Regions from separate parts of the Homo sapiens genome. Here regions 2, 3, 4 and 5 are each linked to region 1. Evidence: fine-mapped expression QTL. A gene starts in region 1. Each other region holds a variant in brackets. All regions are shown on one strand. Distances are from middle to middle.

Region 1 (6,613 bases):
TTATTGAATTTCAATGTACGTCCCTTTAGCGCTCTACCTCTTGTATTAACAAAAGCACAGGAAGTCAACTCTCCCTACCTCTTTCTTCTCTACACCTAAGCATCCAACAGTTTCATAAGGTCTCTTTATATTTCATGTTGCAGGACACAGTTTTCAACACAACCTTCACTCACAGCTAATTCCAGTGTATTAAAGTACTCTCAATCCTTAGAACAGGCTTTAAAAAAAGCCAGGTGAGGAAGCACGCATCTGTAGTCTTGGCTACTAGGGAGGCCAAGGTTGGAGGATTGCTTGAGCCTAGGATTTCAAGACCAACCTGGGTAACACAGGAGACTCCATCTCATAAAAAACAAACGACTGAGCTTTAATTATCAAGTCTTAAGGAATCTAAAGGGAGGATGGGAGACAAAAAGAGATTTTCAGGGGGAGTGCGAGGCAACTGGCACTTTAAAGGAGTACTGGATTTGCAAAATAAATAGTGCACAATATCCTAAATGTCCTACATAACTTTCAAGTGTTCAAGAATTACTGTATTTTAAAATGCTATAACAAAACAGTTTTGCATCCCCAAAGTTTCTTACCTTTACATTCTATCCAAAAGCAGGTAGTATTAACAACGCTAACATTAAAACAGGAAACGCAGCTGTTTCGACCTTCACAGGTTTCTGGGGAGTTGGGGGGAGAGATGCATGAAATCAATGATTTTATTAGTATCTTATTTGAATCTGTATTACTTATCTTTTTGAACAATAAGCATTACATACAGCATCAAAATTACTAATTCAGATAAATGATAAAACTTTATACTGGTTTACTAAGAAATTCCAATCATTACAAAGCTGTAAGTAAACGCATTAGAAAAACAAGCTAGTGGTCACTCTCAGTACAGTGCCTGATGGTATCTGTCTAACCAATCCTTTTTCACAGGACAACTATTGGAAGACACCCACAGCCACTAAGGATTTAGGCATTTCAAAGCATCCTTAATACATAAAAATATCGAGAAAAAGGCTTTGATATAATACCAACACTACACATAGGAAAACCACTACCCCCAAACATCAGATAAAACCCTGAGATTTTTAGTAGTAACAGTAGTAGTTTAACAGGTTGAACCCAAGCACTGATGATGCCCATTCTGCTGCAAACAAAGATAATTTCCCAGGGATTCTCGATTCATAAATGATCCACTCTCGACAGGATCCTCCACAACTGGAGACAACATCTAAAAGCCCATATTCAAGTGCATACAATTCAGGTTAACAAGGTATTTGTCAATAGTTCATCCTAGGCCAAACAATCCAGAAACAAGTACTCATCACCATAATTCAATTTCTGGAGAAGAACGGACTATAAAATTGGGCTCTATTTTCCAGTGAGAAAAAGCAGCAAAATAAAAGAAAAAAAAGAATTGGGCTCCATTCATTTTCCTAGAAACTAGATGCCTCCAAACATTCTCGTTTGCTTTGCTCCTGCCTAAAAAATAGTTCTGCAGAGGCACTGCTTTCAATACTTCATCATTAGTACTTATTAAAGACTGGGACATGTACGGTGGGGTGGGGAAGGGTTCATAAAGTAAAAATAAATTTTCTGAAGTTTGTATAGATAAAACATGCTGTTTAAAAACCTTTGTGCTTGACGGGTGTAGCAAAGTGAAATGTCTGAAATGTTCTTTACAATGAACTAAACTTGCTACCTTTCAGACCACACTACATCCACTTATGATTTCCAGAAAATACATACCTCCTTTGCACGCACTTCAATTACACAAAGACAAATTAATTTGATACTTCCAACCTTCTCTTACACACACACTACAATTCTGAAAGGAAACTGTCAAATTAAGACTGAGACAAACATATTCTGCTCTATCATCTTAAAATAGTGCGGTTAGAATTCCCAGTATTATACTGCAATTTACTTCCCTCGTTTTGAAATGTTACCATTACATCTTCCTTAAACTAAAAACAAAACATTAAGTTTACTATATACTTTATTAAACTTTTATAAAATACTAAAACTAGAGGAGAATTTGTAGAATATGAATGCCGTGATAAAAATCATTACACTTCGGCATTCTTCGGTCAAGAAGCCAATGTTAACTACGTAAACATTACTCCTTAACTAATGTTAACTAGAATAACCAATCATACGAGACTGCAGGTTTTAAACCTCTAGTGTTTCTCCCGCTTATTACCTCAAACTTATCTTCCTTCTCTCTTTTGTGTTGTCACGGTATATGGCAATTTCTGCTTTAAAATGTATGTATGCCTTAACCAGCCCTATGCGACTGCACATAACAAAAGACACGCTCCTGATCGGGTTTTAGAAAACCCACAGACCTGGGCACAAACCCCCGTTCCACGACCTACTAAACATACGCTATCTGAGCACAGGACATAGTTAAGAAAATTTTAAAAACAATTGAAAAAAGAATAAACATACAATGTCAGGAGAGTTTACTCATCTCCGTCTCTGCATCTACCTCCTAGGTTTCACTACCTACCTTCCAGTTTAGCCTTAGGATACGTACGCAAAACACCCGGTACATACATGGGTACTTTTCTTCCTTTTCGCATACTTTGAAGTGTGAAGTTTTCACTAACTACGTGCTCAAACGTCAGCTACATTCTATTCCTATCTGCAAAACCAATGTAATTAAATCTCAAGCGACCTTCTCAGACTCAAGTCTGAGACACGAACGAGCATTACCGTCTTTAAGTTTCTCTTTCCCGGACTTCCGGAGAAGGCTACCTCCGGAGAGAGGCGCCGGGAGGGTGAACAACCAGTGGCAGGGAGAGGCAGCTCGGCCCCACCGCCAACCTCAGAGGCGCGACGCCCGGCCCCATCCTCAACCCCACCGCTGCCCCCGCGGAAGGAAGCCACGTCCCCATTTCCGACCCCAAGTGAGGCTAGGAATTACGATGCACTTTTAAAAGGCACCTCGACTTGCAACACTTCGAGGGGGGCCCCAGCCCCGCAGCCACTGGGAACCGCGCGTCCGCTTCCCCCCAGCGCGCTCCCCACCCGGCCCGGCCACGAGTGGACTCCAGGCTGGCCGCCATGTTGCCGGAGTCGCCGCCGCACCCCGAGCGCGGCCCGCCCGCCCGACCGTGGCCCGAACCCGGGCCCCGCCCGCACGGCGAGGAGGCAGTGCGGCTCGGCTGGGCAGGGGAGGGCGGGAAGCCCACAGGGCCCGCGCCCACCTGGTGCCGGAGTGGTGACCAGCGGGAGGGACGTCACCGGCGCCGAGGTTACGTTGGAGATGGGCGCTAAAGTCGTCACGTTCGGGTGCTGGGTCGTGTTCTTGTCCGCGGACAGCACGCAGAGCACGCCCAGGCAGGTGGCGGCCCAAAGCAGTGAGCGGGAGAGCCGCGACATCGTGTCCTCAGCGCTGGCGTTCGGGAGAAAGCTAAGGCTCGCAACGCTCAGTCAACCCCTCAATCCCCTGCGGCGCCGCCTCCGAGACTACGCTCCCCCGCGGGAGCGCGCAGGGGTCACGTGAGAGGCCCCTGTTTTCGGCGTGCGGGGGCGAAGAGGAGGGAGGTGGGGCTCGGACGATACCAACGGGAATCCTACGGGGGGAAGCAGGGGAGTCGGGAGGAAGCCGAAGGAACCTGGCCCTCAAAGCGACTGTGCCACAGCCAAGAAAACTGGGAGCTTCTGCAAATCGTTCTTCTTGCCCTCAGATTACCAGACACGACGCAGCTGGACTTGTCTCATGCCTGCGATAGGGACGGCCCCCACCCTGACTTGCATGGAACAGTCGACATAATGTGGCCTACTGCTTCCACCTGAGCGCCCCGCCAGGCTGTAATTCCGCGGGCCCACGTGACCTCCGGGGCCGCGCCTTCCGGACGCAACTCCACTGGGGCGGAAGTTGGTTTTGTGCGGCTCTCAAGAACTAAGTTTGTGCTGTGCTGCGGGATCCCCAGGGAGCTTCCTTATATCTTCGGCAGGACCCCTTCTTTTTTTCTTGAAGATTGATTTTGCTAGAAGTTATCCTGTGATGGGACTCCCTAGGGGAATGGAGGCACCACGTGGTTAAGGAGTTTGTGCGTTGCCGCCCACATAGTGTGGGCAGCTGAGGCGCCGCCCGGATCAGAGCCGCAGGGCGTCTACTCTGTCACTTTCCCAACCTGACTTTTCCGGATTGCTATTTCAGACGGCGGTTGCAGCAGCCGACCTGTCTCAACTCCACCACTGTAGTCAGAGAATCAAAAGCGGTCTGAGTTGCGAGGTCATTGGGGAGGCCCCCACCCCCACATTACCAGTGAGGAAACTGAGACTTAAAAAAGTGACCTGACCTGGACACGGGATTGCCTGACATCAGAGCTGGATTCTTAAGTTCCTGTTAGTGTTAAGGCGCTGCTCAGACTTTTAGTAAAGGTGAGCGCCATCTACTGCCAAGTCTCACAAAATATTCGCAAAATTTGATACGGTTATCACATGGTAAAAATTAGACTTTAAAAGTTGTATTTAATGCTGTGTTTTCAGCTGTTGTACACTTATGTAATTTTAATTATGCAAAGTTATCCTAATAATATAGGAATATTAATTGCTTTCGTGAGGTCTGTCTTGATGTGCCACGATGACTTTTTTGATGTGCCAAAAAAGATGACTACATAGTGCTTTTACCTTTTTGCTCAAATAGAAAGATTTTATTTCCCCTTGGGATCTTTTCAGTGTCGTCCTTCTGTACCCTCAGGACTATGAACATTTGTTCCAATGACTACGCTAGTTGGAGTAGTGTTGCTTGGATGTAAACAAAAAGCTGATAGTTTTGACTGATCCAGCCCAGAAGCATGAGAATGCTGTCAGGGAAGTGAGCTCCCACCATAAGCCCTTCAGAGAAGTGTCTGCTCTTCTCTCAGGAGGCCTCTCTCTATATTTAACACTTGACTATCTGGCACCCAGACCAAATGAAAGCGCAAGGCAACTTTAATTTTTTTTTAAGGTTAAGAATGTAAATAGGGGCCGGACGCGGTGGCTCACGCCTGTAATGCCAGCACTTTGGGAGGCCAAGGCGGGTGGATCACCTGAGGTCCGGAGTTTGAGACCAGCTTGGCCAACATGGTGTAAACCCCGTCTCTCCTAAAAATACAAAAATTAGCCGGGCATGGTGGCACGTGCCTGTAATCCCAGCTACTAGCAGGGCTGAGGCAGGAGGATCGCTTGTATCCGGGAGGCGGAGGTTGCAGTGAGCCGAGATCACACCACTGCACTCCAGCTTGGGGAACAGAGCCAGACTCGTCTCAAAAAAAAAAAAAAAAAAAAAAATGTAAATAGAAGCTCTGTTCTCAGAGCTTGGTGTGTTATCTTCTTTCCACCCTAGGATAAACACACTCCTCTGTGCAGACCATTGTTTAACAATTTGTCACCTGGATGTTTAACTCTAGTCCTCAGATATTCCTCAGTCCTGATAAAGGGACATTTCACGCTCTTGTTTTAAGACTAGAAAACCATTGGTTTATTTTATTTTGCATGGCAACTGTAGAGGTAGATCAAGGGAGTTCCAAAGTCATTTTCACCATTTCAGAGAGACAGCTTTTTTTTTTTCAGTTCCTGACAGTAAGCTTCTGTTTATTGTTGTCATAGAGCAGGGTTTCTCAATCTTGGCGCTATCAAGATTTCAGGCTGACTCATTCTTGCTTGTCCTGTGCATTGTTGGATATTCGGCAGTATTCGTAGCCTCTACACACTAGATACCAGAAGCACCCCACCTCTCAGTTGTGACAACCAAAAATATCTCCCGATATTGTTAAATGTCTCCTGGGGGTAAAATCACAATTGAAAGGCACCCTCAGAGCGTTCTTCTGTGTGCAAGGTCAGCCATCACTCAGGTTATTTCCTCTTAGACACATTGCTTGCAATTAGATTGTCGATTGGTTGTTAGAGCGACCTTCTTAACCATTTATTTTCTTGAAAGCAGCAAGACAGAGTGCTTCTGCGCTTGTGAATCTTCTAGCAGTATAAGCTCCCTCTAAGTTTTTTAAACAGCAGATTTTTAAACAATGCTTCAGCCTTGTGTCAGTACCTTTCCCCAAATAAACAGATCAACACTCCAAACAGGACCCTGCCTTCTAGCTATAACTAACATCCAGTGGCCCCTTAATAATCAGAGGTTTGCCTCCACTACTTGATAGCAAGAAGTACAAACCCCCTTGTACTAGCTTATGTTAAAGGGAATCCATTCACTGTAAGAATATGACAGTAAATCTTATAGGCATTCAGGGGTGGGAAATCAAGTGTGTGAGGGCCAAGGGAGACTTGAACTTAAAAGGAGGAATCCCTAGCACGTGGAGCTGGTTTGCTAGGACTTCGTTTCAGGCTTCAACCCTACAGGACATTGCCAGATCTATAGACCCACAGCCAATCATCTCCATTGCCCAGTATTCCAGTTATATAGCTCTTGGAAGAGATAACTTGACTGAGTACCATGCCTTCCCAACCTGTCTGTTACCTACTCTCTGCTCTGACTCCATCCATGCAGTCTACACTAGAGCTCCCTGAACTTCCAGTTCTCCTAACTGGTCATGTTTTCTTTTGCATGTGGATCTTCATCCATGCTATTTCTTCTGCCTAGAACATTCTTATTCCCTTCTGGCATCTG
Region 2 (6,613 bases), 58 kb after region 1:
GAATACTCATGAAGAGGGCAACAATAATTAGGCCATTTCCTTCTGTCCCCAAGCAATAGCTGACGCATCTTGTTTCTCAGTTCCAGTGTCTGTGCTCAGTTTGAGGCAATACTGCAGGTTGACTACTATTTCTTTTCTTTTTTTTTTTTTTTTTTTTTTTTGAGACGGAGTCTCGCTCTGTTGCCCAGGATGGAGTGCAGCGGTGTGACCTCAGCTCACTGCAACCTCCGTCTCCTGGGTTCAAGCAATTCTCCTACCTCAGCCTCCCAAGTAGCTGGGATTACAGGCACCCGCCACCACGCCCAGCTAATTTTTGCATTTTTAGCAGAGACGAGGTTTCACCATGTTGGCCAGGCTGGTCTTGGCCAGGCTGGTCTTGAACTCCTGACCTTAGGCGATCTGCCTGCCTCAGCCTCCCGAAGTGCTGGGATTACAGGCGTGAGCCACCGCACCTGGCCCGGTTGACTGCTATTTCTAACCATCTGGAATAAACTATAAATCCAGCAGTTTTCAAATGAAACACATGTCTTTTTAGTAATTTAGTATTTGTTGTAGAACGGACTATATCCAAATGAAAATGTATGCAATATTTGTTCCTATTCTCTACAAATTTCAATCTTTTGTGTGTTTGGTTTTTACATTTTGTTTTTTATTTTTCAATTGACATATAATAATTGCACATATTTATGGGGTAGTGATGTCTCAATACATATAATGTATACTTATCATTAGCATATCCATCATCTCAAACATTTATTATTTCTTTGTGTTGGGAACATTCAACACAAATCTAAATCTTTGTCAGTTAATCAGGCATCTGGGATCGCTCACAAATTATCATGTTAGGAATACATTCAGATATCCTTTATTAAGACAGAACTAGAGGCTGGGCATCACCGTGGCCCATGCCTATAATCCCAGCACTTCGGGAGGTCGAGGAGGATTGCTTGAGCCCAGGAGTTCAAGACCAGCCTAGGCAACACAGTGAGACCCCCATCTCTTCCAAAAAAAGAAAAAAAAAACTAGCTGAATTTTCATATTTGAATATAACTACAGTAGGTAAAAGTTTAAGAAAGGGAAAATTGACATTATTAATACAATAAAGATATTGTTTTCTCGACCTACTGTCTTCTACATCAGGGGTTGGAGAGGAATAATTTTTAGATTTGTAAACAGTTTTTTGTTTTTTTTTTTAAGACAGAGTCTCACTCTTGTTGCCCAGGCTGGAGCACAGTGGCACGATCTCAGCTCACCGAAACCTCCACCTCCCGGGTTCAAGCGATTCTCCAGCCTCAGCTTCCCGAGTAGCTGGGATTACAGGCGCCCGCCACCATGCCTGGATAATTTTTGTATTTTTAGTAGAGATGGGGTTTCACCATGTTGGCCAGGCTGGTCTTGAACTCCCGATTTCGTGATCTGCCCGCCTCAGCCTCCCAAAGTGCTGGGATTATAGGCAAGAGCCACCGCGCTCGGCCTGTAAACAATTCTAAAAAATCAAAAGAATTGTATTTCACGTTATGTGAAAATTATACGCAAGTCAAATTTCGTGTCCATAATATGGTTTTACTGGAATACTGTCATTCATTTCCATCTCTGTGTCTGCTTTTGCAACACAGGAAAAAGCTAAACAGGTGTGACTGAGACCCTATTGCCAAGAAGGCCTAACATATTTACTATCTGGACTTTACAGAAAAAAACTTGTCAACACTTTCTTTACAATGTGGAGTCGGCACAGAAAATATGTGCCTTCAGAAAAAGAGCGAAAAAAAAGAGAAAAAAAATCTCTGAAACTCATTAATACATTAACTTTGTAATTAACTTCATGGCCATTAACTTTGGTAATAAAAGGTTGCTGATCCCGTCTGCCCAAGCAACACAGACCACAATTTCTACTTTTGATGATTCATGTATTATTTTCACAGACTTCTGATCACTTGTTTTCTTTTTATTATTTATTTATTTTGAGACGGGGTCTGGCTCTGTCGCCCAGGCTGGAGGGCAATGGCGCGATCTCAGCTCTCTGCAAACTCCGCCTCCCGGGTTCAAGCGATTCTTGTGCCTCAGCCTCCTGAGTAGCTGGGATTACAGAGACCGCCACCACGCCCGGCTAATTTTTTGTATTTTTAGTAGAAACGGGGTTTCACCATGTTGGCCAGGCTGGTCTAGAACTCCGCCTCTGCCTCCCAAAGTGCTGAGATTATAGGCGTGAGTCACCGCGCCAAGATATCTTCTATTTGGGAACATTTTGTTGTCAAGTATCCAGCTGGGTACTTCGGGAGTTAAAAACATTAATTAAGGCATGGTCCTGGAGTCAAGTGAGCTTCGGCGAGAAGTTTGCCATGGACAGCATTTCTGGAGCAAACCCTGTAAGAAGGGCTGAATTCTACATGCCGACATTTCATACATTTCTCCTGCATTTCAGGTTGTAAGTGTGCTGCAGCATGACTGATCTGGCCAAATTCTTCCAGTTTCCTCAAGTGCTTTTCCTTTAGTATCGTTCTGAGTGTTTACAAAGAAATGATTTTCCAAAGCACTTGTGAAGCATCTAGTTCGATTGGAACGCAGTGACGGCTCTATAAAATTCAAAGAAAAGAATCTCCCCGCATGAATAGTTAACAAAAATCGCTTGGGCCGAGGTGGCGGGGTTGTAAAAATTAGCTAGTTATATAGTAATCATTTTTCCATAAATTTAAATATCTCTAATTAAAGAAAAAATTGACGTAGAACAAAATCTGCGGGTGTGTGTGTGTGTGTCTCGGAGGGGATTACCTTATCTCCCAGCGCGGTTCTGAACCCTTCCTTCGCTCAGTTCTCCCTTTAAAAGTCGCCAAGTGGAACGCCCGCCCCCGGACCCGCACTTGCCCCCCTATACTCTCCTCCCGGTCCTCCAGACGGAGCCCGCCCGGCCAGGACACGCCAGCCCCTTCCTCGGCCGGTGGGGCCTCGACCCCCGCCGCCTCGAGGAGGCGCGGCGCCTGCAGTCCACGCGGCCGAGAGCGGGTAGCGGGGAGGGCCGCCCACGACGGAGGTTTCTCTGTGGTTACCTCAGCGGCGCTCTTCGCAATCTGAAAGTTGGGGCAGCTGAAGAGCCCCACCACCTTCACCTGCAGCGGCCGCTCCGGCAGCGACGGCGAGCCGCACCTAGCGTGCGGGGGCCCGCACGGCTGCGGCCTTGCCATGGCCGCGCCCGGGGACGCCCGGTGACCCCAAACACTGCGCGTCGCTCCGGCAACCGCGCGGCCCCGCCTCCGCCGCTCGCAGGAGGCGGGGCCCAGGGGCGGGTCGAGGGCGGCCCGTGGCGGCTGGGCCTTTCCTCAACTTTGCGCCTGTTGCTGGGCCGCCGGCGCGCGGGCGGCCGCGACCGCCGGGGACGAGCTTGGAGGAAAAGGAACCGGGAGCCGCCCACCCGGGGGCGCTCTCCGGACCCCCAGGGTCCTAGCGCGCGGCCCTTACCGAGCCTGGGCGCCCGGATTTCGGCAGCGGATCGCCTTTCCGGGTTGGCGGCCCGCCTGATTGGGAACAGCCGGCCGGTTGCCGGGGGAACGCGGGAGTCGGGCCCGACCTGAGCCACGCGGGCTTGGTGCCCACCTGTGCGCGCCGCCTGCGAAGAAGGAACGGTCTGGGGAGAAGGCGCCGCCGGCCGCCCCCGTCCCCACCGCGGCCGTCGCTGGAGAGTTCGAGCCGCCTAGCGCCCCTGGAGCTCCCCAACCATGAAGC[C/T]CAACTTCTCCCTGCGACTGCGGATCTTCAACCTCAACTGCTGGTGAGTGCGTCTGCGGAGTGCGGTCTGGGGGCCACCTTCCGTTCGCACCCATGCAGCCTTCCTCCCCCTATCCCGCCCCACGATCTCAGGGTGTAGGGAAAACCCGAACCTCCAAAGTCCACATCTGGCCCCAGCGCCGGTGGTCCCAGCAGTCGCCTCCCCTGCCCCGCTCTTCCCTTCCTTAGGGGCATTCCGTACTTGAGCAAGCACCGGGCCGACCGCATGAGGCGCCTGGGAGACTTTCTGAACCAGGAGAGCTTCGACCTGGCTTTGCTGGAGGAGGTGAGATTGTGCAGCACGGTGCGGAACCCAGGCTGGGAGGAGGGACAGACCGTCCCACTGGGGAAAGACCAAGCAGGCATCCTCACCGCTTCCCTCAGGTGTGGAGTGAGCAGGACTTCCAGTACCTGAGACAGAAGCTGTCACCTACCTACCCAGCTGCACACCACTTCCGGAGGTGAGAAGCCCACTGGCCTGAAGCCTGTTGTCATCCCAGGAGGCTCTTGGCCCTGCCAGCCCTTCCCTATCCTGCCTGCACTCTCCAGTCTCCTCCAGCCTCCTCTCCCTCTGGATGTGAGAGAAGGAGAAGGGTGAACCAAGAAGGTCCTATGACTTCAGCCCATTTCAGCTTTGTTTTCTGGCTGCCCTATACTCCTCCAAAGGCTGTCGCCTTGGTTCTAGGGCTAGTCCCAGCAGTAGAAAAAGAAAAAAATAGCTGATCAGAGCTGGAAGACAAGGGAGGGGAAGAAGGCTGGGTGTCTCTCCCTGTTTTTCTGGTTATTAAGCAGGGCTTGGCTTTCAGCGGAATCATTGGCAGTGGCCTCTGTGTCTTCTCCAAACATCCAATCCAGGAGCTTACCCAGCACATCTACACTCTCAATGGCTACCCCTACATGGTAAGGCAGACCTTTGACCTCTTCCACCTCCCTTCCCCACCTCCAGTAATACAAGGTAGAGGAGGCAGCCCTCTGAGAGCTGCAGGGGATGGGCAGAAAGATGGTGGCGGTGCCCTGAGTTTCTATCTCCTCCTGCCTGCAGATCCATCATGGTGACTGGTTCAGTGGGAAGGCTGTGGGGCTGCTGGTGCTCCATCTAAGTGGCATGGTGCTCAACGCCTATGTGACCCATGTGAGTGAAGCTGGCAGTGCCTAGGGCTGGGACATGCAGCCCAGTCCTGGGACAGAGAGATGGTACTTCTCTAGCTCTCATACCTGGGGATGAGGTGTGGGGGCAAGATCTTATAAGGAAGCAATGGGCAAGGCTTATCCATTGTATACCAAACACCATGCCAAGTGACAGACACAGGCTTGATTCAGACATACCCCTGGGACCCTCAGTCTTATCTGCTGTGATCTCATCTATCTTGCTCAGCTCCATGCCGAATACAATCGACAGAAGGACATCTACCTAGCACATCGTGTGGCCCAAGCTTGGGAATTGGCCCAGTTCATCCAGTGTGTGAGCCTGGGCTTGAAATGGGAAGTGGGATGGGACCCAGGGGCTGAGGGTGAACAAGGCCCCAGTCATGGGGAAGAGCTGGTGATGGAAGAACTCCCGCCTCACCAACCTGGTTCCCCCAGCCACACATCCAAGAAGGCAGACGTGGTTCTGTTGTGTGGAGACCTCAACATGCACCCAGAAGACCTGGGCTGCTGCCTGCTGAAGGAGTGGACAGGGCTTCATGATGCCTATCTTGAAACTCGGGACTTCAAGGTGAGGACTTGCCTGTTACTTCCCCACCTATATCCCCAGCTTCTCTCCCTCCTTCTCCCCCACATCCTAGCATGAGCCAATGATTCCCTTAGGGCTCTGAGGAAGGCAACACAATGGTACCCAAGAACTGCTACGTCAGCCAGCAGGAGCTGAAGCCATTTCCCTTTGGTGTCCGCATTGACTACGTGCTTTACAAGGTCAGGCTCCTCCCTTCAACATGCTTTCATATGCTGTGTCTCTTTGTCTACTAACCTGTGTAGATCCTTTGCTCAGCTAGTCTAGTCTTGGACCACTGATGGGTGGAAAGTGGGGTAGCCGGGAGCTGGTTCTCTGGGAAGAGGCCCTCATATATAAGCTTCTCTCTGGCCCTTACTTTTCCTAGGCAGTTTCTGGGTTTTACATCTCCTGTAAGAGTTTTGAAACCACTACAGGCTTTGACCCTCACAGGGGCACCCCCCTCTCTGATCATGAAGCCCTGATGGCTACTCTGTTTGTGAGGCACAGCCCCCCACAGCAGAACCCCAGCTCTACCCACGGTGAGTCACCCCCACCCTTTCCTTGGCCCTTGCCCCGCTTGAAGCAGCCCTTCCACTCTTGACTCTCTCCTGCCCCACTGCCCTGCTCTGTTGTAGGACCAGCAGAGAGGTCGCCGTTGATGTGTGTGCTAAAGGAGGCCTGGACGGAGCTGGGTCTGGGCATGGCTCAGGCTCGCTGGTGGGCCACCTTCGCTAGCTATGTGATTGGCCTGGGGCTGCTTCTCCTGGCACTGCTGTGTGTCCTGGCGGCTGGAGGAGGGGCCGGGGAAGCTGCCATACTGCTCTGGACCCCCAGTGTAGGGCTGGTGCTGTGGGCAGGTGCATTCTACCTCTTCCACGTACAGGAGGTCAATGGCTTATATAGGGCCCAGGCTGAGCTCCAGCATGTGCTAGGAAGGGCAAGGGAGGCCCAGGATCTGGGCCCAGAGCCTCAGCCAGCCCTACTCCTGGGGCAGCAGGAGGGGGACAGAACTAAAGAACAATAAAGCTTGGCCCTTTAGTGGCTCTGCCTTTTTCCTTGTAGAGGCGATGGGAGCCAGGGGTCAGTGTGACTGTCACACTACAGACCTTAAGGCTCCTACACATCTTCTCCTGTCCCCATACA
Region 3 (5,000 bases), 350 kb after region 1:
TTTGTTATTTACAGAGGAATAAGTATTTTTATGATGAAAAAAACAGCAGACATTCTTATCCAAATAATCAAACTTCACATCACCAATAATGAGACGAAACTGACATTGTTTGACTCTCAGTGGGAAGGACACAGTTTACCTTAGTAGTTAAATATTGCTAAAAATATTTAACTTGAATCTAAGCATGGGGAAATAATCAGATAAATACATACCACTGGACTTCCTGCAAGATAACTGGCCTAGATTCTTAAAAGAATGTAAAAGTCATCAAAGACAAAAAACAAAAGACTGTTCCAGATTTTTAAACAGACGTGACAACTAAATGCAGATTTTGGTCGGATTCTGGGTTAAAAGTGCATGTACTTGTACACACATCCTCACACAAAGATCTAAAGGGCTTTATTTGGACAGTTTGTATGTGGACTACATACTAGTGATCTTGAATCAGTATTTAAATTTGGAGTATAATAATGGTTTGCGGTCACTGAGGAGATTGTCCTTGTTTATAACAGATACATGCTAAAATACTTAGGAGTGAAGTGTCATGATGTCTGCTACTTACAGTCAAGTGGTTTAGAAAAATAAAATGTATTTGTATATTTAAAGAGAGATAATATTTGTTTATGTGTTTAAGGAGAGAGCGCTAAAAGTGAATTCAGAAGAAGGGCATAGTGGTGTTAATTGTACTTTTTTTTCCCTGCAATTTTTCCTGTATATCTGAAATGTTCAAAAGTTTTGGAGGAATTATTGGAACCTTGGAAACGTGGGAAAAGCTATTAACAAATTGATAAAATTGTAAAGGTTGAATTGATTTAATATTATGAAGATTAAAATGGAACAAAGAAATATTTATAAGTTTTTAGGATAGGTAACAGTTTAGATTTTAATTATATCCTGTACTTTTGTAGTGTTCCAATACATGAACCAAAATTTAAAGGTGATGCAGCCCTGTTGCTTGAGACCATCTTAGACAGTGGTTTTCTGAGCCCTTGTGATGTTGCTTTTGATGATGATTTGGAAGGGGGTTATTAGAAAATAATTTGTTTCATTTGAGGATAAGTACAGTTTATCAGAGTAGACCTTTGTCTTGCACTAACTGAAAAAGGTTATATCTGATACAGCTGATAGGAAGGCCTATATAGTGTATTGACTAAAAGTGAATCAGATTGACCAGACCATGCGAATCCAGGGATAGGAAAATTTCAAGAAGTTAATGTTGTTTATAAGTCTCATCTTTATGATACTTTAGCCAAGAATACTAATACAAATTATGTTGTTGTGTACAGTGATTTGGATATCTTTAAAGAATAAAATTATGAGTAATAACATGTAAATGGACTTATTCAGAATAAGATACAATTATATTAATAGTTTTTTATAGGTAAACTGAAGTAATATTACTAATTAGGAAAAACTTTTAATACTTATAAAACTATATAATCCAATAGTGTATCTAAGCAAAACTATTTGGTAAAATATTTGGAAATAAAATACAGTACTATTAAACATTTCATACATAATGTTTATCTCTGTAATGCATGATTGTTACCAATGTTAGAAAATTTACTAGAACAGTTCACCACATTAAAATATTGCTGGAAAAATTATCTTCTTAATGTTTGCAGAAAACATATTTGACAAAATTCAATACCCATTTGTGATAAAAGGTTTTAGCAAACTAGGAATATAAGCAGACTTTCTTAATCTGATAAATGATACCTATTAAAAACCTATATCCAAAATTGTTCTTAGAAGTGAAACTTTAAAAGCATTACTTTTAATCAAGGTAAGGAACAATACAGAGGTATCTGCCGTCACTACTAACATTCAGCCTCATACTGAAAGTCCCTAGGCAGTGCCACAAGACTAGAAAAATAAGGCATAAAGCTTGAAAAGAAAAATTACTGTCATTATGCAAACAGCATCATTTCCTACTTGGAAAATTTGAGAATATCTACAAATTCTCGGAACTGATGAAAGAGTTCAGTAAGGTGACTAAGAAAAGATGGCTGGGCATGGTGGCTCATGCCTGTAATCCCAGCATTTTGGGAGGCTGAGGTGGGAGGATTGAGCCCAGGAGGTTGAGGCTGCAATGAGCCATGTTTGTGCCACTGTACTCCAGCCTAGGTGACAGAGTGAGACCCTGCCTCAAAAAAAAAAAAAAAAGATTAAAAGAAGAAAAAAGAAAAGATCAACATGTAAGACATACAGGAACCAGTAATATTTCCACACACTAGCAGTAACGAACTAGAAAATGTATAAGGTACCTGCCAATAAATATAACAAAAGCTATCCAAAACCTTATGGAAAAAAC[T/G]TCAAACATTATTAAAAGATTTTTTAAATCTCTACATAATTGGAGAGATGTCCCTTTTTCATGGATGAGTCTTGATATCTTGAAGATGTTAGTTTTCTCCAAAATTAATTTATAATTTTTTTTTTTCTTGAGACAAGGTCTCACTCTGTTACCCAGGCTGGAGTGCAGTGGTGCAATCTTGGCTCACTGCAGCTTTGAACTCCTGGGCTCAAGTGGTCCTCCCACCTCAGCCTCCCCAGTAGCTGGGACTACAGACACATGCCACCACGCCTGACTAATTTTTGTATTTTCGGCAGAAATAGGGTCTTTCTGTGTTGACCAGGCAGGTTTTGAACTCCTGGGCTCAAACAGTTCTCCCACCTCGGCCTCCCAAAGTCCTGGGATTACAGACATGAGCCACAGGGCCTGGCCAGTTTATAAATTTAATGTAACATTGATCCAGATTCCAAGAGGATGTTTTGAGAATGGAACTTGACATGATTTTAAAAGTCATATGGAAAAGCAAATGTCTAAGCATGGTCCAGACAATTGAAACAAGAAAAACAAGAAGGGATAAAGTCAACAAGATGGTAAGACCTATAATAATTAAGATAATCAGGTAGTAAGCTATAGTAAATAAGACTGCTAAGTATTGGTGGAGGAATTGATGGGGGTCAATGAACAGTGTTGAGAAAGCCTAGAAAAAGATCCATTTTATGTGGCAAACTGGAATATGATAGAGTGAGCATTACAAGTCATTGGGGGAAAAGATGGGATAAATAGTGTTGGTTTTCCAGTTGGACAAAAATGAAATTTGATTCCATTCTCTGATAATATTCAGGAAGCAATTCCAGAAGTACAAAGATAATTTTAAGAAAATAAAGGTAAATATTTTTATAATCCTGGTATGGAAAAGGATTTTACAAACAAAATACAAAATGCATAAACCATAAGGCAAACAATGCTATATTTGATACTGTAAATATTCAAAATGTATTTATAATCTAGACAAATTTTAGGAAACAAGCAGCAGTCTGAAAGTAGATATTTGTAACATATAACAATGATTATTATTTAGAATGTGGGAAGAATTTCTACAAATCAGTGAGAAAAAAATACAACATAACTGAGAAATGATTAAAAGGAACAGGCAGCTCACAGTAGAGATTCTGAACCTTACCTAGTAATTTGGGAAATGCAAATTAAAAAGGTACCATTTTATTCTCATTAGTCAGTTTGGGAATAATCAGAATATCTGCTGTCATCAAATTATAGCAGAGATGTGGGAAATGAGTTGTATACTATGAGTTATACACTATGAGTTGGAGTGATATTTTAACCACTTAGAAGAACACTTTGGCAATTCCAGCATAATTGAAAATGCACGTTATCTATAGTGCACAGTGGTTCTTGTTTCCGTGTATCTGCCCTAGAGAAACTCTTGCACATGTGTATGGGAAAACATGCATGGGATGCTCTTGGCAGCATTGTATCTTATAGTGGAGAACTAGGAAGAACCTAATGGTCTATCAGCAGACAATGGATAAATAAAGTGTGTCATGTGTAGTTGGCTTTCCTTATCCATGGGTTCCACCTCTGTGAATTCAACCAACCACAGATTGAAAATACTTGAAAAAAACTGTGTCTGTACTGAACATGTACAGATGTTTTTCTTGTCATTATTCCCTAAAGAATAGAGTATAACAACTATAGAATTACGTAGCATTTACATTGTATTAGGTATTATAAGTAATCTGGAGGTAATTGAGAGTGTACAGGAAGATGTGTATTGTGCATTATGTGCAAATACTATGCCATTTTATATCAGGAACTTGAGCATCTGCAGATTTTGTTATCTGAGGGAGGACCTGAAACCAATCCCCCACAGATACCGAGGGATGACTGTATATAGTGAAGACCAAACATTGATTACAAAGTGAACAAATTAAATCTATAACTTTCAACGTAACTAGGTTTCAAAAAATGAGTGAAAAAAGTAGGACAGTATACAAAGTTTGTAATGATTTGCATACATATTTTAAATATACAATATAATGCTATGTATTATTTAAAGATGGCTCTAATGTGATAAAAGTAAAGAGATGCATGGACTGGAAGGATTCACATCAGTGACAGGAAAATGGTTGCATTTGGAGTGAGAGAGCCGGACTGGGGAAGTCTAAAGGGAATGTTAACTTTTTAAATTGTTCGTTATTTATCTTAAAAAGGTTGAAATAGATATTTTAAAATGTGAACACTTATTAATCATGAGTGACAGAAATGTGAACATTTTATTCTATACCTTTTTTGGTGTAAAAACTTACCAACTTAAAATTGTGGTGACCCACATTGCGCTTGTTGTTGTTGCTCTCCTCTCTCCATCCTCAAAGCATTTGCAAAGCATGTTGTAAAAGCAAAAACAGCATTTACTTCTGTCTTGCCCAAAGTCTGCTGTGCCCCCTACATGTAGATGCACGACTTTGCCTCTCACTGGCATAATCAGTGGTAAGGAACAGCCAAACTATAAAGTTAAAGGTCTCCAAAGGGATGATCAATAGACCTAGAATTGCTTTGGATGTAATCCCTATTCTAGATATGGTTTGAATTCCTCAGCTTTAATGAGCATATTTACAAATATAAATGTACATATGGGTACATGTTAAACTGTGAGAAATAATAGTATTGGACAAATGAAATGTACTTTGTT
Region 4 (6,613 bases), 51 kb before region 1:
TACTTTTACAAGACACCACTAAAAATTTTCTTTAGGTGAAGTGTTGCAATGGTTCTCTGCACCAGTAAACTCACACCATTAATCCTTTCAATGCGTTCAACAAAGGCCAAAGGATGTTTATCTGGCAATTCCAAAGTGTGAAGTTTCACTTCTAGTCATCTGAGATGCACCTTGTCACGTTTCTGCCGCCAGGAACCATGTAGGAATGATTCCAGTCATTTAAACCTGAGCCCTTTTCCTTTCCTCTGCTCCTTCTTTGCCAAAAGTGCCTGCTTTGCCTGGATGGCTTTGAGAGCTTGATAAGCCTTCCTCTTTTTCAGGAGATTTTCTGGAACCAAAGGGATTTTTCTTCGCTCTTGCTCTGCCATCTTTCTAGTGTTGCAGCTACTGATCACGTGCAACCCCTTTAATTTTTTTTTTTAGAGCAAGGATCTCAACCTGTTTCCCAGGCTGGAGTGCAGCGATGTAATCATGGTTCACTGTAGCCTTGACCTCCTGGGCTCAAGGGATTCTCCCACCTCAGCCTCCCAAGTAGCTAGGACTACAGGCATGCACCATCATGCCTGTCTATTTTAAATGTTTTGTGGAGATGGGGTCTCACTATGTTGCCCAGACTGGTCTGAACTCCTGGCCTCAAGTGAACTTTGTATATGCCTCATCCCATCTGTGTCAGCCATATTGCTGCTTCAATCTTGGAGCTAAAGTTCAGTCTGTCAACATTTCTAATCTGTAACTCTAACTTCTCTCTTTTGAATTTCCTCTCCTTTTTTATCACTATTATATATTCAAGTTAATTTTGCCCTCTAGCACTAGGAACTTAAGCAGATAAATATAATAGCTGTTCATTTATTTCTGATCATTGTTTTAGACCAAAATAATTGGCAGATACATAGAAGGCCTTAATAAAAATAAAGATGATGTAGGATTGATACTAATATTTGATTTGGGGTTTTTAGTTATGGTAATGGAATATTCCCTGGATTTCATAGGTGCTCTTCCAAATCTTTGCATTAGGAGTCAGGTTAGAGATCTTCCTAGTTCCCATGTTCCAGAGGGTCTTGGATCCCCAGTTGCCCAGCCCCCATTAGTTTTTGCATACAGTTGACCTTTGAACAACATGGTTTGAACTGTGCACGTCCACTGATACACAGATTTTTTTTCAACCAGATGAGGATAGAAAATACAGCATTCGGGATGTGAAAACCACGTGTGCAGAGGGCAGATATTTGTATCCACGAGCTCCCCAGGGCTGACTGCAGGATTTGAATATGCATGGATTCAGGATCTGAGGGTGTTCCTGGGAACAATCCCCAGTCCCCTGCATGTATCAAGGGGCAGCTGAGTTTAGAAACAGCTTATTGTGTCCCATGTTCTGTCTCAGAGAGTTGCCATTTTATAGCCATTAATGACAGCACAATGTTTTGTGGTACTAGTGCCAGTATGTTTTTCCCCCTAGATCTCTGGAAACACCAAGTCATGAAAGAAAACTTTTCAGTCTCAAGACCACAAATAGTTGAAAAATTTATACAGAGATTAATGTAGAATTATCAGGATGATGGAGTAGAGGTATGTATTGAAAATTAGTCATTCTGTTGGTTTTTATAACATCATCCCAAACAAGGAAAACTTTCTCATTTAATGGATCTCCTAATGCTTCCCTTATTCCCTAAGAATGATTATATGAATACTGAGGCTAAGCCCAAAGTAGAGCAATTGTTAGTTATTTTTTTCCTTTTTTTTTTTTTTTGAAATGGAGTCTCCCAGACTTGAGTGTAGTGGCACGATCTCGGCTTCACTGCAACCTCCGCCTCCCGGGTTCAAGCGATTCTCCTGCCTCAGCCCCCTGAGTAGCTAGGACCACAGGCATGTGCCACCACACCCAGCTGATTTTTGTGTATTTTTAGTAGAGACGGGGTTTCACCAAGTTGGCCAGACTGGTCTCGAACTCCTGACCCCCAGGTGATCCACCTGCCTTGGCCTACTAAAGTGCTGGGATTACAGGTATGAGCCACCACCATGCTCAGCTGTAATCATTAGTTTTTAATTTTGGAAAAAAATTGATTTCCACTAAAGATCTGAGTAATTAGAATACATACGTTGGCAAATTTCAAATTTGGTCAATTTTTTTAAAGTAACCTTGGAGTTTGTTTATGAATGAGTTGGTTTTTAGCAACATATTCTGTTGTTGATTTGTTAGTATGGAAAGCCTGAATGAGGAAAACCAAAATAGCCTATAATGCTGTTACCTAGAAAACATTAAAATGTAGCATATGAAAAAAAGCCAATAGCACAGAAAGCTAGCATTTTCACCTGTCCCCATGCCACCATCTCCAGCTTCCTCTGCAAAGGAAGCCAGCTTCAGCAATCTGTGTGTGTCCTTCCAGAAAAAATATTCAAATCCGTGACAACTCTATATATTATATTAAATAATAATATACATTTAATACATACACACATGCATATACACAGTCCTTGGAGTTTTGAAACATGTTTATTCTTGGCAGGAAGTGCCTTGCTAAATCAAAGCAACCCACTGAAAAGGCAGGATAAGAGAGTAGACGTAGATATTTGACCATAACAGAGTTTTGTGGAGTGTTAACAAGTGCTTTTAGGTAACTGTGAATCCAGTTTCCTTTGAAACTCAACCATTTAAAGAAATTTGACTTGGCAAAACATACTTCATTTTTTTAAATGTCTTCTCCAAATTTACATTTTTCCAAGTTCTTCAAATGTTCTCCATTATTTTATAATACACATCTCAGTTCTTATGAGGTAGAGAATTCACAAGCTTGGTTGGGGATACATTTTTCCTCAGAACTTGATGACTTACATGTATTAGTTTAAGCTTTCAATCATAAACAAACATGGTACTGGGTACTCTGAGTGGGTGAAGTAGTTTCCCATCCTTGAGATAAGGAAGTGGTTAGGGTGGGGCATATCAGAAAAATGGATGGAAAAATTTTGTGGCTCACCTTATAAAGGAAGGAAATTCTGGCCTGACGTGGTGGCTCATGCCTGTAATCCCAGTACTTTGGGAGGCTGAGATTGGCAGATCACTTGAGGCCAGGAGTTCGAGACTAGCCTAGCCAACATGGTGAAACCCAATCTCTACTAAAAATGCAAAAATTAGCCGGGTGTGGTGGCGCGCGCCTGTAGTCCCAGCTATTTGGGAGGCTGAGGCGGGAAAATCGCTTCAACCTGGGAGGTGGAAGTTGCAGTGAGCCGAGATTGTGCCATGGCACTCCAGCCTGGGCGACAGGGTGAGACTCCATCTCAAAAAAAAAAAAAAAAAGGAAATTCTGATACATGCTACAATGTGGATGAACCTTGCAGACATTATTGCTAAGTGAAATACGCCAGTCACAAAAGCACAAAAACGCTATGACTCCACTTATATGAGGTACCTAGAGTAGCCAAATTCAGAGAGACAGAAAGGATGGTGGTTGCCAGGGGCTGAGAGGAAAGAATAGGTAATTACTGTTTATCGGGTACAGGATTTTTGTTTTACAAAATGAAGAGTTCTGGCAGTGGATGGTGGTGATAGTTGCCCAGCAATGTGAATATACTTAATGCCATTGAACTGTACCTTTGAAAATGGTATAGTGACAAATTTTATGTTTAACACAATAAAAACAACAGTTTAGTGACTGAAGTCCTTCTCATTTCTTATCTGTATGCTTCACCCCAACATTGAGGTCTTGTGGGAAAGAAGCATGAATGTCAGTAGGCAGAGCAAACCCATATCAGGTACACCCCACACTCTGGGCACACTTGAAGA[G/A]GCTGGTGTCAGCCTGCCAGTGTCTTGAAGTCAGGGTCCTCAGGATGCCCCAGCCTCTCCAAAGTCTGTGCCTGGTAGGCTTCTAGCCTTTTCTGGATCATCTGCAGTAACAGGGAACTTACTCTTCCAGCCACCCCCTGTCTCCATCATGGATATGGTGCAATCTTGGCTCACTGCAACCTCTACCTCCTGTGTTCAAGTGATGCTCCTGCTTCAGCCTCCCAAGTAGCTAGGATTACAGGCACATGCCACCACACCTGGCTAATTTTTGTATTTTTAGTAGAGGCAGCGTTTCACCATGTTGCCCAGGCTGGTCTTGAGCTCCTGACCTCCAGTGATCTGCCTGCCTCGGCTTCCCAGAGTGCTGGGATTACAGGTGTGAGCCACTGCCCCCAGCCCACTGATGTGTTTTGTCAGCAGAGGTGGGTGTTTTAGAAACATCCTCAAGATACCTCGTGTGTGCCTGATATTAAACAAATTGTTACAAGGGATTCCAAGATGAAGCAAACCACAGAAACTCAATTGCTGCTGGCAGGCCTCAGGGCTAGACTTTGGCCATAACAAGGCCCAGTGCTTGCCATGCTTCACCCCAGGCTGGTTCTCTTGAAGAATCCCTGGGGTAATCTGCTGCTCTTCCACCCAGTGCCATCCATCATGGTTCAGGTTTGAATGATGGTGACAGAACAGCCCAGTGGAAGGCGGTGCTGCTTATTGGGCAGAACTGGGCCAATAATCTTAGTCTGCAGCTCTTATGCCAGCCAGGGTCTTGGAGAAGAAACTGGCCAATGGTACCCACTCACGCTGCATTTTGACACAAGCACAGGTGACATTTACAGTGACCCAGGGAGGCAGGGGTAGGTTGCAGAGCAAGTTTTAGGAAATAAATTGCTCCGAGAGCCCAGAGAAGGCTGAGCCCACGGAAGCCACACCGGCTGCTTCATGTGCTGCTTCCAGGAGGCCAAGTGCACAGGGTGCAAGACCAAAGCTTACCTGGAGAGAGGGGCTGCTGGGAGCCTGAGAGCCTCCCTGCACCCCTCCCTCACTGGCCACTCACTGCTTCCTGTCTGCCCCTCCTCAGACATGCTCCCTGTCCCATGTCCCCTGCAGGTACTCTGCCTGCACCCTTCTCCCTCTCCCTGCTTCCAGCCTCTCTCCCCTTGAGCTGTGCTTTCAGCTCAACCTCTTGAGGCCTCAGTAGAGCTCTGAGAGAAGGAAGCAATAGAACTTCTATGGCCTCTGGAGATGCTCAAGGAGAGTCCTACCTTTCCCACCTCTTTGGTGTTATACAGACTCACCACAGACTCCTCCTGCTGGCCAGGTAAAACATCATGTTGGCTCAGAGGGCATGGCAGAGGGCCACTGTGGTCCAGTTGTGCGTTTCTGTGGGTTTGGGATCCTATATCTGCAGAGGCTATGGTGGCATTACTATGAGAAGTGTTTGCCCTGCATAAGAGCTGTTGGATGCCCTGTTGGCACACCCATGTCTGGGCACTCATACCCAGGATAGTAAAGACTGAGTTGCTGTGGCTGGCTCAGAGCACTAGGCCCAGAAGAGGTCACTGGCCACACCTTGCTGAACTCCAGTAGGGTCTTGTGACTTCTCATGGCTGCAGGCTTTCATTACAGTCAAACCAGGAAGTGCTTCCTTTGTCATGACCAAACCCGTGTAGCCTTGCCCTTTCACCAGGAGGTCAAGGTCCAGGGGTAGAATCTTGAGTTCTCTTTGCCTTGTGTCAGCAACTAAACCATGGCTGTCCTGGTGCTTGCTCTCCAGAGACTGGGTGGGGCAAGAAGGGTAACGGGCAGGTCATCCTGCCCTCACCCCACCCACTAATGCAGCCCCTTGAGGAGGGCCCTAGAGTGTGAGTGGGAGACACTGAGTTCCTGCCCCTCACTGCCCCATCCACTGCTCATTAAATGCAGCGTGAGCAGAGGTTTCCATCTGCTGCTTTATTGCCCGTATCTTGATCATATCCTGCCAAGCTGATATAGTTGATGACTTTTTAAAAAGCTCAACTATCTTTAGATTACTATATGCATTTTATTTTTACATATATTTACATAATTATTTTAGTTATATACATTTTATGATTATATTGTAGTAGAAAATATACTCATAATCTTAGTGCTCATTGATAACCATTATTATTATTATTATTATTTTTTTTTTTTAAGAGACAGGTCACCCAGGCTGGAGTGCAGTGGCCTGATCATACCTCACTGCAGCTTCAAACTCCTGGGCTCAAGTGCTCCTCCAACCTCAGCCTCCTGAAGCTAGGACTACAGGCACACACCACCATGCCCAGCTAGTTTTTGTATTTCTTTTTTGTAAAGATGGGGTCTCACTTTGTTGGCCAGGCTGATCTCAAACTCCTGGCCTCAAGCAATCCCTCCTTGGCCTCCCAAAGTGCTGGGATTACAGATGTGAGCCACAGCACCTAGCCTCCACTATTATTATTTTGACATATTTTCTTCCAAACTTTATTTATAACACTTTTCTACTCATGCACTTTGATATAGGTTGGCTGTGTCCCCACCCAAACCTCACCTTGAATTGTAACTCCCACAATTCCCACATGTTGTGGGAGGAACCCAGTGGGAGGTGATTGAATCATGGGGGTGGGTATTTACTGCACTGTTCTTACCATAGTGAATGAGGCTCACAAGATTTGATGGTTTTAAAAACAGGAGTTTCCCTGCAAAAGCTCTCTTTCTTTGCTGCCATCTGTGTAAGACGTGACTTGCTCCTCCTTGCCTTTCACCATGATTGTGAGGCCTCCCCAGCCATGTTGAACTATAAGTCCATTAAACCTCTTTCTTTTGTAAATTGCCCAT
Region 5 (6,613 bases), 140 kb before region 1:
TAGGCCCACTCTCATCCAGTATGACTTCATCTTAACTTGATTACATCTGCAAAGACCTATTTTCAAATAAGTTCTCATTCACAGGTTCCAGGTAGACATGAATTTTGGGGGACACTATTCAACTTAGTACATTAGTAAGCCATGAAACTGTGCTAACACATTTTAGAAGTACTTATAGAATTACAAGAAAAATAGTTTTAACCTAACATTTAAGGATTCCAAGTGCCTTACACTCATAGAGTCACATACTCCTGGCAGCTAACATAGTCTATAGTGTCTCCACAGTCCCCATGTTACAGATGAGGAAACGGAGGCTGGGAATAGCTGAATGACCTGCCCAGGATGAGATCCTGGCAGAGCCAGAGCCTGAACCCAGGCATTCTGACTCCAGAGACCACTCTAGGCTCTATTTCCTACCTTTCTCCAGTTGCTACTGAATTTGTCAGAAAAACAAACTAATCAGCTAGTTATCCACCTCAGGAACTACCTCTTCCTGCCAATATTCTTTGTTAATATGTTTTCTGCATACAGCTTTTTATACATTCAGAATATTTACAGCTTCATACTGGCAGCCCACTGTGTGGGAGCAGAAGCCTGCTGCTTGTCCATGTGGGATGGCAAAATATAGCTCTCCTTTTTCCAGTAACATCTGGGCTTGGCTTTCTTTCTCCAGGTCCACAGCGTCCAATTCATGGAGTTCTCGGAAGTGGAGAACCAGGATGACTACTACAGCACAGAAGCTGGCTGCATCCACACCCAGGACCAGCAAGGGGTGCATGTCATGTATGAGGAAGCCTTGAGTGATCTCAAGGAACTAGAGGCAGAGTTGCTGCTTGTGGCTAGCCATTACATTGAGAAAGAAAGGGGTGAGAAGTCAGATTTAAAAAAAAAAAAAAATCAACTGCCTAAATAAACAAAAAACACTAAGGGCTCCTTTTTAATACTCTCCACCCCAAAATATAAACACATATCCAATAGTATGTGAAAACTCAATAAGCGCACACTTCCCCCACCCCTAAAATGCATTCACTTTAGGAGAGACACAGTTCTGTTTCCAGCTCAAGCCCTGCTTCTGATAGAGATGGTGACTACTCTTTCAGGGCCGGGTTGTAATTCTTGCTGTGATTCAGACTCTGTTTGTTGACCAGGGACATTTCTTTTCTTTCTTTTTTTTTTTTGTTGTTGCAGCAGGAAGTTTCCTTTATAAATGGAGAGTTGGATGATACACAGTTCTAGCGTAAGGCCTCAGTCACTGGGCCCCAGGAGACAGAAAGGAGCAGGGCTGAGAGGGACGACATGCTCCAGGGCTCATGTCACACTGATATGTGCGCCAGGAATGACCGCCCATGTACTCCTAAAGTTCAACCCACCCACCAGTTCAGTCAAGAATTATGCTTTTAATTCTTCATGTTTGGCCACTGAAGATCAAATCCACCATGATAACAGGATTTCAGTACAACAGGCTCTTTCCAGTTACGACAGACAAAGATGTCCAGGCTCTTGATAAGAAACAAAAGTTCCTTTGACTTCTCTTGCGAGGACCGAAGAGATAAATGTTTTCTTTGTGATCTGTTGAAATGTTTATATAGACTTGAAAAAACAACTAACAGTCATTCTGTGCTCTGGTTCCCTGGAAGGTTTCTCATGATCTCCCCTTCAATAGCTAGAGGGCTTGTGTGTCAGGGAACAAAGAATTAAGACACTTTAAGCGATAAAAATCCTAGTGCAACACTCAGAGGCAGATCGTGGGCTTGAGGGGGCCGGAGGGGTGCGAGGCAGGTGCTTTGACTGAGGAGCAGGTGCTGCCTTCTGGGAAAGCCTAGTGGAGACAGAAGCAGGAGCAGGAAGCCCTGCCAGGGAAGGCCCAGTTTCTTCCTTGCTCTCCTGAGGTACAAGGGACAGCACGGCCCCTGCATTTTCATTTCTCAGGGCCAAAGACCTGACCTCTGACCCTCTACCCACTCTGGTGACCTGCACGCTAAATTGGGTGGTTTCTGACTAAAACAGGCTTAAGCCAAGAATTGGGATTTTACTCCCAGGGGCATTTCTGCGTCACCCACTGGGTGCAGGGGATGTGGTGCAGGACCCTGAAGGAAGGAAAGTAAGCAAGTGAAACAAATGACTTTTCTAAGTGGTAGACCTTGAGGAAACTGCATTTAGCAGCAGAGACAGCCCTGAGTTCCTAACAGGAAACCACTAGGATGCAAGAACATCTGGCTAGGAAAATGCCAGACAAGCCCCAGAGGAAGAAATCATTACTCAGGGTAATCAAGTAACCCATAACCTGTATTTTCTCTTCCTTTTGGCATCACTCAAATCGATCCAATTTTAGAAATGAATGAGGTAAGAATATTCTTTTGGGATACTATGACAGCATTGGAATTACACTTGCAAAGAGCTTAGAATTTCTAGACACATTGCAATACCTAAAGGGAAACTTAATCAGGGTTTGTGCTATTTTGTAATATGTGTAGACTGTAATTAAAGATAATTCACATTCATATTGTTATAAAATGCTGCTCAAAGAAAGTTTGACAACTAACTTTTCAGATCCTAGACAGAATTAATTTGATATAGGATTGAACTCTTTGTCCTGTCTTTGCCATTGGTATCTGAATCATAGGACGCAATGATGGCATCCAACATTCCAGGGTATTTAATTTCAGCCCTTAGCTTTTATCTTTACTGGTTATCCTACAAACCAATGCACCATTTGGTCCATATTAATTTATAATAGCATGCAACTATTTCTAGCTGCTAAGAATTTAACTGGACTGAGACACTTAGTCAGTAGTCATTTAACCACATGGGCATTTTTCAATTGAGCTGGTAAATGTATAG[T/C]CATCTATTGTGAAATGATTTCCCAACTGTTGCTACGGAAGTTCTTGATCATCTTTCTCTTGCTTAGTACCCATTAGATATGTGATAATTATTGAGCTTAAATTTCAGCACATGAAAGTATCTTATCTTTGAATATTTAATTCTGAAATACAATAGTTAAAAATTTAAAGCAATAATAATACCAGTAGTGAAAAGTAACGTGAACAAAGTTAAAAAAAATCAGCTGAATAATGAAAATTAACTTCATTGATTTAAGTTAGTAATTAACATAATTAAGGAATATCTTGGAAACGTTTCTGAAAATTTTCGACTTGGTTCACAATGATGGAAATAGCAAGTCAAACTAAGTTTGTTGTTAAACCCCCAGGGGTTTGTTTTTAGAGAAGGAGAAATGTATACTTTGCCTTTAAATTGTGGGTTTAAGGACATTTTAGCATAGATTTCTTGTTAACTAAATTTTGACTCTATTTCTAAGATTAGTCTTTGAAACTGAATTTTAAAAATAAAAACAAAAGCTCCTGTCGACTTAGAAGTCAACAAGTATGAAGTCAGGCTTTGTCCCAGGGACTGGTTCAGTATTTCTGTTTCTGAGATGGAGCTGATAATCCAAGGGGCACATTTCTAATTGGAACAGGTTCCTTGGAAGCCCTGTCTCTAAACATTCTCACCCTCTTTTCTCCCAGGTCACAAAGTGGGCAGCCAGCCAAAGAGTGGCCAGGAGTGGGGATGGGCCCATGCAGATGTGGACAGATTTGCTGTGCTGTATGACACGTGGACTTGGGAAGCAGCTCTTCTGGAAAACAAGCGCCAGGTATTCTTGCCTAGGAGACAAAATGTCTGCTAAAAAAACATTCTTACAAAATCCAGTCTTTTTTCTGTTTTTTGTTTGTTTTTGTAAAACCCAGTTAGACTTTTAGAAAAGCTCTCAACCAAGAGAATAATTATTTTATTTAAATAATCTCAGCTAATTATAAGGATGTAATACATTTTATTTTCTTTACTGAGGTTCATCACAAAAAACAAAATGTGAAAGATACTTCTTTATCTTACAGGTATTATTTGTTAGAGGGCTACGTAATTCCTTCTTATAATATGTATGTTTTTAGTGAGAATGAATGATGATTTCATTCATGCTCATTGTGCAGTCACAGGGACAATGCTCACTTTGCTAATTACAGACAAATTGACCTGATCATGGCCTTTAGAAGCGTATGCCACATGTGGGTAGGTGAAAGCAATTGGACAGGGTGCTGAGTGCAATGTTATGAGGGTGAGTTTAAAGCAATGAAACAGCAAGTTACTAAATCATCACTGTATCACGAATGGTTCATATCCCAATAATGAATGAAACACTGCAGGTTTACTGTTCTTCATTTGTGCCCTTAGCATGGATTATGAGCCCTTCTAATAATCACCAATTGTTAGGCATTTACTTACCAAATATGAAGTATTTACTCCGCCAGGGACTGTTCCAGGCATTCAGGGACCTATAGATAACTAAGTGAAAATGATCTTTATCTTTAAGGAATTTATCATCTATAAAAGTTGATTCAATCTCCAAGCAAAAATTATAATCTAGTTACTAACAGCTTATAATTGAATACATTCATGAGTCATGGGGACTCTGCAGAGAGAGAGATTTGTCCTGGGGGAGGGGAGCACTGTCCGATGGAAGAAATGCTAGAAAGCCTTTCCAGAGGAATAGATATTTAATCTTGATACTAAAACATGAGTAAGATATTGTCTGGCAGGGAAGAAAAGATTCTTAAGCAGACGAAATGGCATTAGAATGTCAGGGCAATGTAAATGGGAAGGACCAGCTTGGGGGATTTTATTTTGAGAAATAAAATCTTACCTTCTTGGAGGATGGTAGGAAGACTGTTATGGCTGGGATGTAAAGGCATGATGGATGGCAACAAGCCACACATGTGTTTTGGGTGCAGCCTGTAAAAGACCTACTAGTTATATTATTTTAGAGTTTGTCTTACAAACAAAGAAGAGCCATTAGTGAGTTTCCATAGAGAGAAATATGATCATAGCTGTGTTTTTAACAGCTATCTTGGGTGTAAGTGAGAGAATGGATTGGAATAGAGAGCCCCTGAGAAAAGAAGTGCAGTTGTTGCAACAGTGACCTGAAAAATTAGGAGGGGACATGCAATGACAATAGAAGAATAGAAAGGCAGAGAGGCGGTGAGAATAGGAAGGAGGAACAGACCTGAGAATACTTTGCAGAAGTGGAAATGGCAGGATTTGAAGACTGGATCTGGAAGTTGGGGCGAGAGAGTAAGGGTGGAATTTAAACAACTTCCTGAGGATTAGGGAGGAGGCTATTAACTGAAACTGAACCCAGGAAGAGGAAGAGTGTCTTTAGACAGGAAAATAACGTAGGCCCTAGGACAACAAGGCATTTGAGGGGGTTTGCTGAAACTCAGATGTGAATGTTTTGTGGGGAGCTACAGGTTTGAAGCTCAGGAACAGGTATGAGCTGAGGTATGAATGCAGAGGTTGAACCACAATGATGAATCAAAACAACTGGGAGAAGCTAGAGGTGTCTGAAATGAAGCCCTAAGTAATGTACCTACTTTTTTTTTTCTTTTTGAGATAGTATCTTGCTCTGTCACCTAGACTGGAGTGCAGTGGCACGATCTCAGCTCACTGCAACCTTTGCCTCCCAGGTTCAGGCGATTCTCATGCCTCAGCCTCCTGAGTAGCTGGGATTACAGGTGCCCGCCACCATGCCTGGCTAATGTTTTGTATTTTTAGTAGAGACAGGGTTTCACCATTTTGGCCAGGCTGGTCTCAAACTCCTGACCTCAAGTGATCCACCTGCCCTGGCCTCCCAAAATGCTGGGATTACAGGCATGAGCCACCACACCCGAACCCTGAGTAATATACCTACATTTAAGGGGCAGGTCATGAAACAAGAAGCAGTGAAACTAAATAGACCAGAGAAACAAGGAAGAAATAGTATTGTGGGAACCAACAGAAAAATAAGTTTTAATTAGGAGGGGGTGGTTACTTGTGGAGTTCTGTGAAACGTCAAGAAAGGAACTCCTAAAAACCAAGCAGCTTGGTCAGGTGGTCATTGGCAGCATTGCAGGACTCTTTCAGGGGCATGGTAGGGGTGGAAACCAGGTTATAGTGCACTATGATGTGGTCAGAAGATGGGGAAATGGCAGTGTTTTCTTTGAATTGTTTTTCTAGTAGAATAGATGCTTCACCATTTCATCTACTCTCTGGTTGGTCTGTTACTCCTAGAGATGTAGGTCACCCACCCTTTGGAAAACAATTGGCTGGGCTTAAATAGCGCAAGCCTTGGACTTTGAAAAAATGTTCCTCTTTTCAATGATAACTGGCTTCTACAGCCTTTGTCTGGAGGCTTAATCTGCCCATCAGAACCTTAACCAACTGAGTGAGAGATTTAGATGCACAGTGTAGTAATGGAATGGCTGTATGAAATATAAATAAGACAGGATCCTTAAACTCAACAAGTTTATCAGTCCAGGCGTGAATTTTTTTTTTTTTTTTTTTTTTTGAGACGGAGTCTCACGCTGTCGCCCAAGCTGGAGTTCAGTGGCACAATCTGGGCTCACTGCAAGCTCCGCCTCCCGGGCTCACGCCATTCTCCTGCCTTAGCCTCCCAAGTAGCTGGGACTACAGGCGCCTGCCACCATGCCCGGCTAATTTTTTTTTTATTTTTTTCTTTTCCTCAGTATAATTTTCTTTTTTTTTTATTATTATACTTTAAGTTTTAGGGTACATGTGCATATTG

Evidence for each region.
Region 2: its variant is fine-mapped to the expression of CD164 in whole blood (TOPMed, PIP above 0.99).
Region 3: its variant is fine-mapped to the expression of CD164 in whole blood (INTERVAL, PIP above 0.99).
Region 4: its variant is fine-mapped to the expression of CD164 in whole blood (TOPMed, PIP above 0.99).
Region 5: its variant is fine-mapped to the expression of CD164 in whole blood (INTERVAL, PIP above 0.99).

Annotation. Positions count from the first base shown.
Region 1 is chr6:109,378,998-109,385,610 of GRCh38, forward strand. It overlaps CD164 (CD164 molecule), which reads right to left and starts at 3,470. Exons shown (of 6, transcript NM_006016.6): 1 at 3,207-3,470; 2 at 582-665. The coding sequence starts at 3,381. RefSeq lists a silencer at 2,928-3,207 and enhancers at 3,363-3,872, 3,428-3,777, 3,858-4,087.
Region 2 is chr6:109,437,412-109,444,024 of GRCh38, forward strand. PPIL6 (peptidylprolyl isomerase like 6) reads right to left here and starts at 3,217. Exons shown (of 8, transcript NM_173672.5): 1 at 3,045-3,217. The coding sequence starts at 3,179. SMPD2 (sphingomyelin phosphodiesterase 2) reads left to right here and starts at 3,313. Exons shown (of 10, transcript NM_003080.3): 1 at 3,313-3,760; 2 at 3,946-4,042; 3 at 4,141-4,217; 4 at 4,563-4,656; 5 at 4,799-4,888; 6 at 5,132-5,214; 7 at 5,341-5,473; 8 at 5,566-5,670; 9 at 5,856-6,009; 10 at 6,106-6,508. The coding sequence starts at 3,711. The coding sequence ends at 6,494. RefSeq lists silencers at 2,808-3,627, 3,269-3,474 and enhancers at 3,888-3,957, 4,118-4,197. The variant C/T (reference allele first, on the strand shown) is at 3,718.
Region 3 is chr6:109,727,624-109,732,623 of GRCh38, forward strand. All of the region lies in intron 4 of FIG4 (FIG4 phosphoinositide 5-phosphatase), which reads left to right. Among named protein-coding and RNA genes, the nearest start is that of FIG4, 39 kb to the left of the region's middle. The variant T/G (reference allele first, on the strand shown) is at 2,315.
Region 4 is chr6:109,327,547-109,334,159 of GRCh38, forward strand. It overlaps the pseudogene CCDC162P and the pseudogene RPL7P28. Among named protein-coding and RNA genes, the nearest start is that of CD164, 52 kb to the right of the region's middle. RefSeq lists an enhancer at 1,039-1,566. The variant G/A (reference allele first, on the strand shown) is at 3,779.
Region 5 is chr6:109,238,655-109,245,267 of GRCh38, forward strand. It overlaps the pseudogene CCDC162P. Among named protein-coding and RNA genes, the nearest start is that of CD164, 140 kb to the right of the region's middle. RefSeq lists an enhancer at 2,934-4,133. The variant T/C (reference allele first, on the strand shown) is at 2,842.